Linked DNA regions of Homo sapiens: region 1 is linked to region 2. The links come from fine-mapping of genetic effects on gene expression. A gene starts in region 2. The other region holds a variant in brackets. All regions are shown on one strand. Distances are between the middles of the regions.

Evidence for each region. PIP is the estimated chance that this variant, and not a neighbour inherited with it, causes the effect.
Region 1: its variant is fine-mapped to the expression of ANKRD10 in whole blood (INTERVAL, PIP 0.90).

The regions. Positions count from the first base shown.
Region 1 is chr13:110,890,068-110,894,456 of GRCh38, forward strand. It overlaps ANKRD10 (ankyrin repeat domain 10), which reads right to left. Exons shown (of 6, transcript NM_017664.4): 4 at 2,961-3,196. Among named protein-coding and RNA genes, the nearest start is that of PRECSIT, 22 kb to the left of the region's middle. The variant C/G (reference allele first, on the strand shown) is at 2,428.
Region 2 is chr13:110,913,100-110,917,488 of GRCh38, forward strand. ANKRD10 (ankyrin repeat domain 10) reads right to left here and starts at 1,970. Exons shown (of 6, transcript NM_017664.4): 1 at 1,626-1,970. The coding sequence starts at 1,835. RefSeq lists enhancers at 582-1,258, 982-1,111, 2,610-3,284 and silencers at 1,222-1,591, 1,862-2,521, 2,652-2,811.

The DNA.
Region 1 (4,389 bases), 23 kb before region 2:
ATGAGAACCAAAAACCTAATAAAATAATTCAGATTAAGCAAAACTTAAAACACACATTTAAACAAAATCAAAACAAGATGCCAGAAATTACAACGAAAACTAAAGCAACATATCTTTAATTCAAAACTAAAAAACTGGTCAGTTAATATGGAAATAATTATATATCTATTGAAACCAAGAACAATTTCATGTAGAACATTCAGGTAATTGGCAGAAAAAAAAATCCTGTTTTAATGACCAAGAATGACTCCCAATACCCGACATCAGCACTCTCAGTATGTAATGGTAAAAGGGGGGCAAAAAATCACCTTTTCCCATAGGGAAACGAGTGGTGGGAGTGCAGGTGAGCTAAAGATGCCCATCTATGCTCACACAGACACAAAAAAATATAAACACACTCTTGTGACGAGTGTGGCAAATCTAAGGACTGTCAACTACATAAAAGACAGAACCATCAGAAGTTCCAGGAAATTAGTAAAGTCATGGTCAGTATACAAATTAGGAAAACCAAGGATGAGCAGCTTTGAAGTAATGTGCATCTTGGCTGAAATATTTCAACTGTGATAATCACAGAAACATCAGTCATGTACTGTGTACCTGCAACAGTGGCTCAACCTGTTAGGTCTACGTATTACCTGCAACACTTAAGCAGAAGTGCCGGCTCCAACCATATTTTTGTCTAAATTAGCACCCTCGGGCTTGGGACCAGGAATGTATAGTTTGGGAAGGCTGCATGGTGAGTTTAATGTGCAAAATGTGAACTTCTAATCACTGGTCAACCAAAACAAATCCTCCTTCTAAAGGAAGAAAATAAAACCCCCAAAGTCAGCAGGACTCTTTAAACCAAATTTATGTAGTTAACGAGGATTAGGAAACAAGGAATCCTCAGAAATGCTTTTCAGGGTAATTAAGCAATGTGGTATTGGCCAATTCAACTGACCTTAGAAACTCTGAGACTAGTTTTACGAACTCTTCTAGGTGCATTTTGAGTCCAATTAGCATGTTAAGTGATCTCTTTTTAAAAATACTAAACAGAATTTAAGATTTATCAGCAATAAGAGAAAATGAAGCATAAATCATTTTTCAAGGACATTTAGACTATACAGTGACATACAGGGACAGACATGTACAATTCGTGCATGAGGGCATGAGGCCACTCTACAATACTAACCAGGCTTTAATTAAAGGAAATGACAAAGGATTTTTTTAAAAAGTGGATGCTCTTAAAAAGGCGTTGAAACTACATTAGAAAAAATATATTAAAACATGGTACAAATAAATGACAATGCTGAATACATCACCATTAAAAAAGACCATTTTGAATTTTATGCAGATCTTCATGTCATGCTTATGATTTTAGCATCTTTCCAGAAATGCTTAACTCATAAAAATCTTGAATTTGATAAAACTGTTAAGTTCATACATTACTATAAAAAGTCTTATCACAGGAATTTTTATGGTGACAAGATATAGTTGTGAAGTACATAATACTGACATTTTATCAACTTTATAGGGAAAAAATGTTTCACTTGGACACACTCATTAAATAAGGTAGAAAAGATGATGTTGGTTCATGAAATTTAACCAAAATCTCTAGATTTTTAAGTGATTAACTGATAGTCACTCAGTTTTCCTTATGCTGTAACTTGCACGGTTGATTTTTTTAAACCAACGGGCAAAACTTTGTGCTTATACTCAGCAAATCTGAGCTCATAATCTGCTTCATTACTTCACACTCCCACCTCTCCCCCTAAGTTCACTAAATATGCCTGCCAAGCTATCACATTTACCTTCTTATTAAGACTTTTTTTTTTTTTTTTTTTTAAATAGAGACAAGGTCTCACTATGTTGCCCAGGCTGGTCTCGAACTCCTGAGCTCAAGTAATCCTCCTGCCTCAGCCTCCCAAAGTGCTGGGATTACAGGTATGAGCCATGACAACTGGCCTAAGACATCTTATATATAGATATAGATGATTTTCCTATAGGAAAGGGAGATGTTTTCAACTTCAAGAGTGACTGGCTGACTGCTTATTTGCAAACTCAAACCTACCTTAAAAACAAAAAACAAAAAACCCAAAAAACGGCTAGGCACAGTGGCTCATGCCTGTAATCCCAGCACTTTGGGAGGCCGAGGCAGGTGGCTTACTGGAGGCCAGGAGTTCAAGACCAGCCTGGCCAACATGGTGAAGCCCCTTCTCTACTAAAAATACAAATTAGCCCAGTGTGATAGCATGCACCTGTAATCCCAGCTACTTGGGAGGCTGAGACAGGAGAATTGCTTTAACTTGGGAGCCGGAGGTTGCAGTGAGCCGAGATCACAGCATTGCACTCCAGCCTGGGTGACAGAGCAAAAAAAAAAAAAAAAAAAATGGTGGGAGAATACTTACAACGAAAATAACTTACCTTAGGGACTTAAATCCTCAAGAT[C/G]AAATTATACACCAGATCTTGCTGTGATAAGTCAACACACATGTGAGGTACAGAGACCACTGAGGTCAAATCATAGTACAGAAATAGTACAGAAAACATTCACCTTCCCGAATGTGAAAATGTTTTACTGCCAGACCATCAGCAATTTTTATAAGCCCAGGAACATTTACAAGAAGCAAATTAAAAAAAAAAAAAAATTCAGGCACAGTGGCAGATTTTCTTTAATAGATATATTTCAAACAGATACAACAAATTAAAAAATCTAATTCATGGCAGGTAAACATGGGTGCTCAAAAAGTTCCACATAGACATTTACACTTGGGCCATCAGTATTTCCCTCACATTCCCTTTTGTTAAGTCCCATCTTCGCAGTGGCAGTACAGGAGAAATCTCCACCGTCACCGCACAATCCACCAGGCGCATTACCACCTGAAGTGAAGGTCTCATCTCGAAGGTGCGCTCAGCCATAAAAAGAAAACATATTACAGAAAGGAAAAATAAGTGTGCTCTTCCCACCCGCAAAGCGGTCTCACCTTCAGTTCTAGCTTTCTTTACTCCAAAGTCTTCTGAGTCTTCCAAGCATCTCTTTCGATTTGTTCCCACACTAATATGATTAGGAAATACATTCTGATGACCCCCATTTAAGATGCCATTGTTATAGAAATGGTTCAGATGACAATTCTGGAGGTTCAAGAGAAACTGGGCACACTCTTGGAAACCCTGGGTTTGTGCAATGTCTGCTGCTGTCAGGCCACTGGCATTTCTCAGGCTGTACAACACAAAAACACTGAATTACACCCCATCCGCGTGCTAACCTGGTCTCTGCTCCTGCTGAACTGACTAGCTATCTGAAGGTGGTATGAAAGAGTAAACAAATTCATAGCAAATCTTCATTAAAGAAGTAGTTAATCAATCTAGCTCTGTAACTAACTTCTCTTATATACATTTGATTTCTAAGCAAGATTTGGGAGATAAACTAAATATGCTAAACTTCTAAAAAAGGCATCTTCCTATTTAACTTCTCAAAATCATGTTTTATGTTAGTCTGAAGAATCTAAATTTACGCTAACTTCAGACTTGAAACTGAATTCTATATTATATGCACTTAATTTTAATACCCATTCCTTTAGCGTGAATAAAATCATAACAAACAACATGTACTGAGATTGTCCATGGCATTCATAACTGTCTTCCTAAAAACAAAGCAATGGCTCACCAACGAGCCAGCCTTCATGCTTACATGTGACACTGTAAGTGGAAGTTTAGAAGGATGTCCTGACATTAAAAAGTAGCCTATCATCAGATTCCAGAGCTGAACAGCTGTGTTTTTCTGTCAGATTTTGATTGTTTTGGCCTTGCTTGGGAAAACCTGCAGGAGTATTGTATTTTTGGCATTGTAGAGCATTTGAGTAGTTGGTTCCTTTAAAAAGGCTTTGAATACTGTCCTAAAAACTCATCCCTACCACTCACAAGAACCAAAGTTTTACCTGGCTAATAGTACTAAAAAGGAAAGGTCTGAGACCTCTACAGTAGCTAAAACTCAGATTCAAGTAGGAAGTGATGGCAGAGTAAGTGAAAGAGCTGAATAAAATAGAGTAAGTTGAACTTGTAAACCTTTAGACACTGAATTAAAACTGAGGGATCAAAAGTAACTCCATGTTGAAGTTCCCCTGGAAGACAAGAATGTACACTGCTCTGTGAAATAAACCTGTAAAAAAGCAGACATCCTGTTAGCTGCAGGTTGATAAACAAACGGGAGAAGTACTTAACAGCAAAGACAGCTTCCATACCTGTTCAGCAAGCTACACTACATCCACAGCAAAAGCATGATGAAATCAAGGCCTTGTGCTGTGTCACTCAAACAACCACTCCAGAACCCTGATGCCTTTCTTGGGGTTACTGTTAATGCAAAAAAAAAAAAAAAAAAAAAAAACCCCGCATTTGAGAGTGAAAACTACAGAA
Region 2 (4,389 bases):
TTAATCCCCAGAGACAAGTGGAGGCACCACTGGATTAAATTTTCTAAGTGACCATCTGTAATGAGGCTTTAAGCATTCTACAGATCGTTGTTCACTGACTATCACCCAGTATTGTGTCGTTCTCAACCAGGGTAGAAAGGACAGAATCCTAAAGTTTAGTGTAAAAATAAACCACAGCAAGAGACACTCTGGAGGGAGGAAATCCTCAGATTACTGACTGCCTCGGGAAATCTATTTAAGGCTGCACGCAGAAGCGCAGGGAGGAGGCTTTATTACTTTTGTTTGTTAAGAAACTCATTTCCCCTGGGCACCTGTTTTCTCCAGCAGGTACTACGGTTGCACAACTTCAGAGACAGTGCCACAGGAACCTAACAGCCCTTGAGGACTGATTAACTTGCTTGTCCCACCCCGATCGTCAAAACTCCTTTTCATTTCTTTTATTGAAAGAAAAGTGACTTTTCCACTTTAAAAGAATCAGAAACTGCTTTCCAAAAGACACAGCTGCTTTGTGAATGTAGCACCAGGGGCAGCAAGGTAAACCGCAACTTCATCAGCTGGTAACGACATTACCAGGGCCAGGCCTTCTTAAAGTAACTTATTTCACATTACCTCTCACATATTTCTGCAAAACCATTTAACCCCATCTCATCACTTACGAGAAAAACACTATACACATCCCTGAATTTCAGTGAATTAAGAAATATTAATTAAAACCAGTCACTTCTGAAATGCACGGTGAAATCTTATTTAAGATTTCTGAGAGCAAGTACCCCAACGACTTCACAGATGAGGAAACGGTAGCTATCCAACCTTTTAAAACCTTAAAGCAGCACTGTGTTCCCCCAGAATTTTCAGTTTAAGAAAAAAGAGGGGAACGTAAAGCCTCCACGGGAAGAGAATTCTGCTTAATTTAACCACTTCTGCAGTAATTTAGATCCAAGATAAACACAGCCGTCACTAATTTTGCTGAAGCGGGGCCAGCTACAAGCCTTAAAGCAAACCCAGAAGCTGGAGAGCCGGCCTCCATCCCACACAGCTGCCGGGGCCTTCCAGTCCCGCCGGGGCGCTTGCTCCTCGGCTGAGCTCGTCCGCAGCGCGGCCCTCGGCTACTGGCGAGGCTGTGCGGAACCAGAAGGTCGACCGCGCCCGGGCATTCCCCGCGCGCCTCTGACCCCAGCTCGGCTCCCCGGAAGCCGCCTGGGCGACTTCGCGGCCTAATACCCGGCTCTGCGAAATCGCTCGCGCCTCCGGCCCGGCCTGGAGGGCCCCGCACCATCCGCGCGCGCGCGCGCTCGCACAGGATCCGGCCAACAGGCGCCGGGACCCTTGGAGCCCGCCTTGTTAGAAACTTGCTACGCGCGCCGCCGCACATGCGCCCTAGGCCCCTCCGGACGCAGGCGCCACCGACCTCGCTTCCGCCCCGCGCCCCCCGGCTGCCCCGCCGCGACTCCGGGCCGCGAGCGCTGCCGCACAGGCGCCCTAGGCCCCTCGGGGCACAGGCGCCGTCGATCCCGCTTCCGCCCCGCGATCCCGGCACGCCCCACGTCCCCCGCACCTCAGACCCGCTTTCCCCGACTCCCACTGGACAGCCGGGGAAAATGGCGCCTTAAAGCGTTCGCACCCACCTTGCCGAAATGCGCGGCCCAGTGCACGGGCGTCCAGCCATAGAAGGAGTCCTCAGAGGCCAGGTGGGCGTGGGGTGTCTGCTGCAGCAGCGAGCAGAGCGTGGCCAGGTCCCCGTCGCGGCAGGCGCGGTGCAGCGGGAAACGGAGCGAGAGCAGCTCCTCGCTGGAGAAGCCCGCCTCTACGCCCGCGCCCGCTCCCGCCGCCGACATGGTCCGTCACCGGAGAGCGCGGGGCTCGCTGGCCTAGAGGACGCGTCGGGGAGGACTCGAGAAGCCGCCGCCGCAGCACAAAGGAACGAGACTAGCGCCGCGGTCGCGTCCCACAGGCTGCCGAGCGGAGCGCGCACAGAGGGGGCGGGGCGGGGCCTGGAGCGGCCGGGCTGGGGGCGGGGCCTGGCCCAGAGGACGCCTTGTGCAGCCGGGCAGGGGTCGGGGCCTGGAGCCGCGGACCTCTGGAGCCGCCGGGCAGGGGGCGGGGCTTGAGCCGGAGGCCGCCTGGAGCAGCCGGGCGGAGGGCGGGGCTTGGAGCTGCGGACGCCTGGAGCGGCCGGTAGGTGGCGGGGTCTAGCCTAGAGGATGCCTGGAGCAGCCGGGTAGGGAGCGGAGCCTGGACCAGAGGACGCCAGCAGCAGCCGATTAGGAGGCGGGGCATGGGGCTGTCGACGTCTGGAGCAGCCGGGCATTGGGCTTGGGCTAGAGGACGCCTGGGGCGGTGGGCGCCTGGAGTAGCCAGGCAGAGGGCGGGGCCTGGCTTGGGTCCACGCCTGGGGCGGCCGGGGGCGGGGCCTGGCTGGAATTGACGCGTGGAGCTCCGGTGGAGGGGGCGGGGCCTGGCTGGGCCGCTGCCTACAGCGGCTTCCGGGGCTTGGAGGTCACGGGGCTCGGAGGTCACGGGGCTCGGAGGTCACGGGGCTGGCTGTGTGGGGGGCTCAGGGGCGTAGAGTGGCCAAGCAGCGGTCTGAGCGGGTCCCGGGGCCTCCGGCGCGGTGGGTCTCGGCTGCGCCCCGGGTGCGGACCATGATGTTTCCAGCCTGGGAGCCGGTCCGGGCGGGGAATCCCGGCTGCCGGGGGCGCGGGTTGAGGCTCTGCGGGCCCGCGCCCAGAGCGGGTGGGAGTCACGGGTCTCCCGGAGGCCCAGTAGCGCGCGGTGAAGTTGTCCAGTAAAAATTTATGGAGCGCCTACGGGGAGCAGGGATTCTCGTTAAAATCTGGGAATCAGCAAGCCCTAGTTCCTTACAGAGCAGGACAGATTCCTCGGTTTTGTCCGAGGGACGCCTTCTTCGGAACCGAGTGCGGTGGGCTAGGACTATACGTTTGCAAGTTTAAGAGATAAGCGAGAAGACCAGACAGAGCAAACAATAAAAGGCTTTTTGTTGAGAACTGTATAAATGTAAGGGAGTACCAAATCCCCTATTTTGAATGACAGTATCACGGACTTTATTACATATGTAATTTTATTCTGATTATGAAAGCATCAGTAATTTCACTATTGAGGAATAACCACAATGTTTATGAATATTTCCTTTGCTTCTAAATATGCGGTCTTTTTAAATCATGTATTTTATTTCATTTGTATATATAGTTTTTCGCTGTGTAAACTTCCTTTTTGCAAAATTCTACGTCACAAATTGAACAAGGCAATTAGATGTCTAGGGAAGTACTGATGCACGAGAAAGCATATTGCAGCATTGGTTAATAAAACGAAAAAATAGAAACCTAAGATTTAACAAAGGGAAGTTGTTAACTAGTGGTGTAAACACTCAACACAGACATGTCTTCATACAGCAAACATTTGTTGAGTACAATGCTGAATGAAACACATTGAGAAACACTCTATAGTGGGGAAGTAGCAAATATTTCAATTCAGTGAGCAATTGCTAATGAATGGAAAATATGACACATAGAATCTATCTTCTCCCAGGGAGTTTGTAATCTGTTAGTGAAGCAGGAAAGAATAATCAAGCAATACTTTTTTGTTTGGACCAAAAGGGTGAGAATAGACTATAAACTCATTTCAGGTTTTGTTTACTCTAGAACGTAATCATTTTTCTTCTCACATGCCATGTTGATTTTAATCTAATCTCTTTAAAATATATCCCCCTGATTTCCATCTTTCTTAGGAGAGAGGTGTCCCATTTTGCGAAAGGACGTGAGTGTATCTTGTCCTCCATGTAATGAAAGGGAGGGATTACTTGCTAGGCTGCATTCTGGGAATGGTGAAACAGAGATGGTGGTAAGTCAAGGAATTTGTCCAAGGGCAAACTGCATGCCTGTGGCAGAGCTTAGAATAATATCCAGACCTAGGTTCCAACCCACTGTTAGATTTTTTTTAACTTTGGAATTTATTTTGCATAGAGTATTAAGGGCTAGGAAGATAAAATAGGTTATAGTGATAGGGTACTTCGTGTACGTCTTTCCTCACTTCAGATGACTGGGTTTTTTAAAGGATTATTTAGACTATATACATATTTATTTAGCTGTACAGGAGTAGACTGACATATATACGTGGTGATGGATCCCCAAGACAGATCCTGTAACTGTGGCAGGAGGATTGTGGATAGGATGGTGTCTACTGACTATTCCCAATGCCAGTGATCTAATTGGTTGGTCACCCAGATTTTGCTCAACTCTGATAATTGTCAGATGCATTCCAACTAGAACTACTCCATCTTAAATGGGGCTGGGTAAGATGAGGCTGAGACCTATTGGGCTGCATTCCCAGATAGTTAAGGCATTCTAAGTCACAGGATGAGATAGGAGGTCA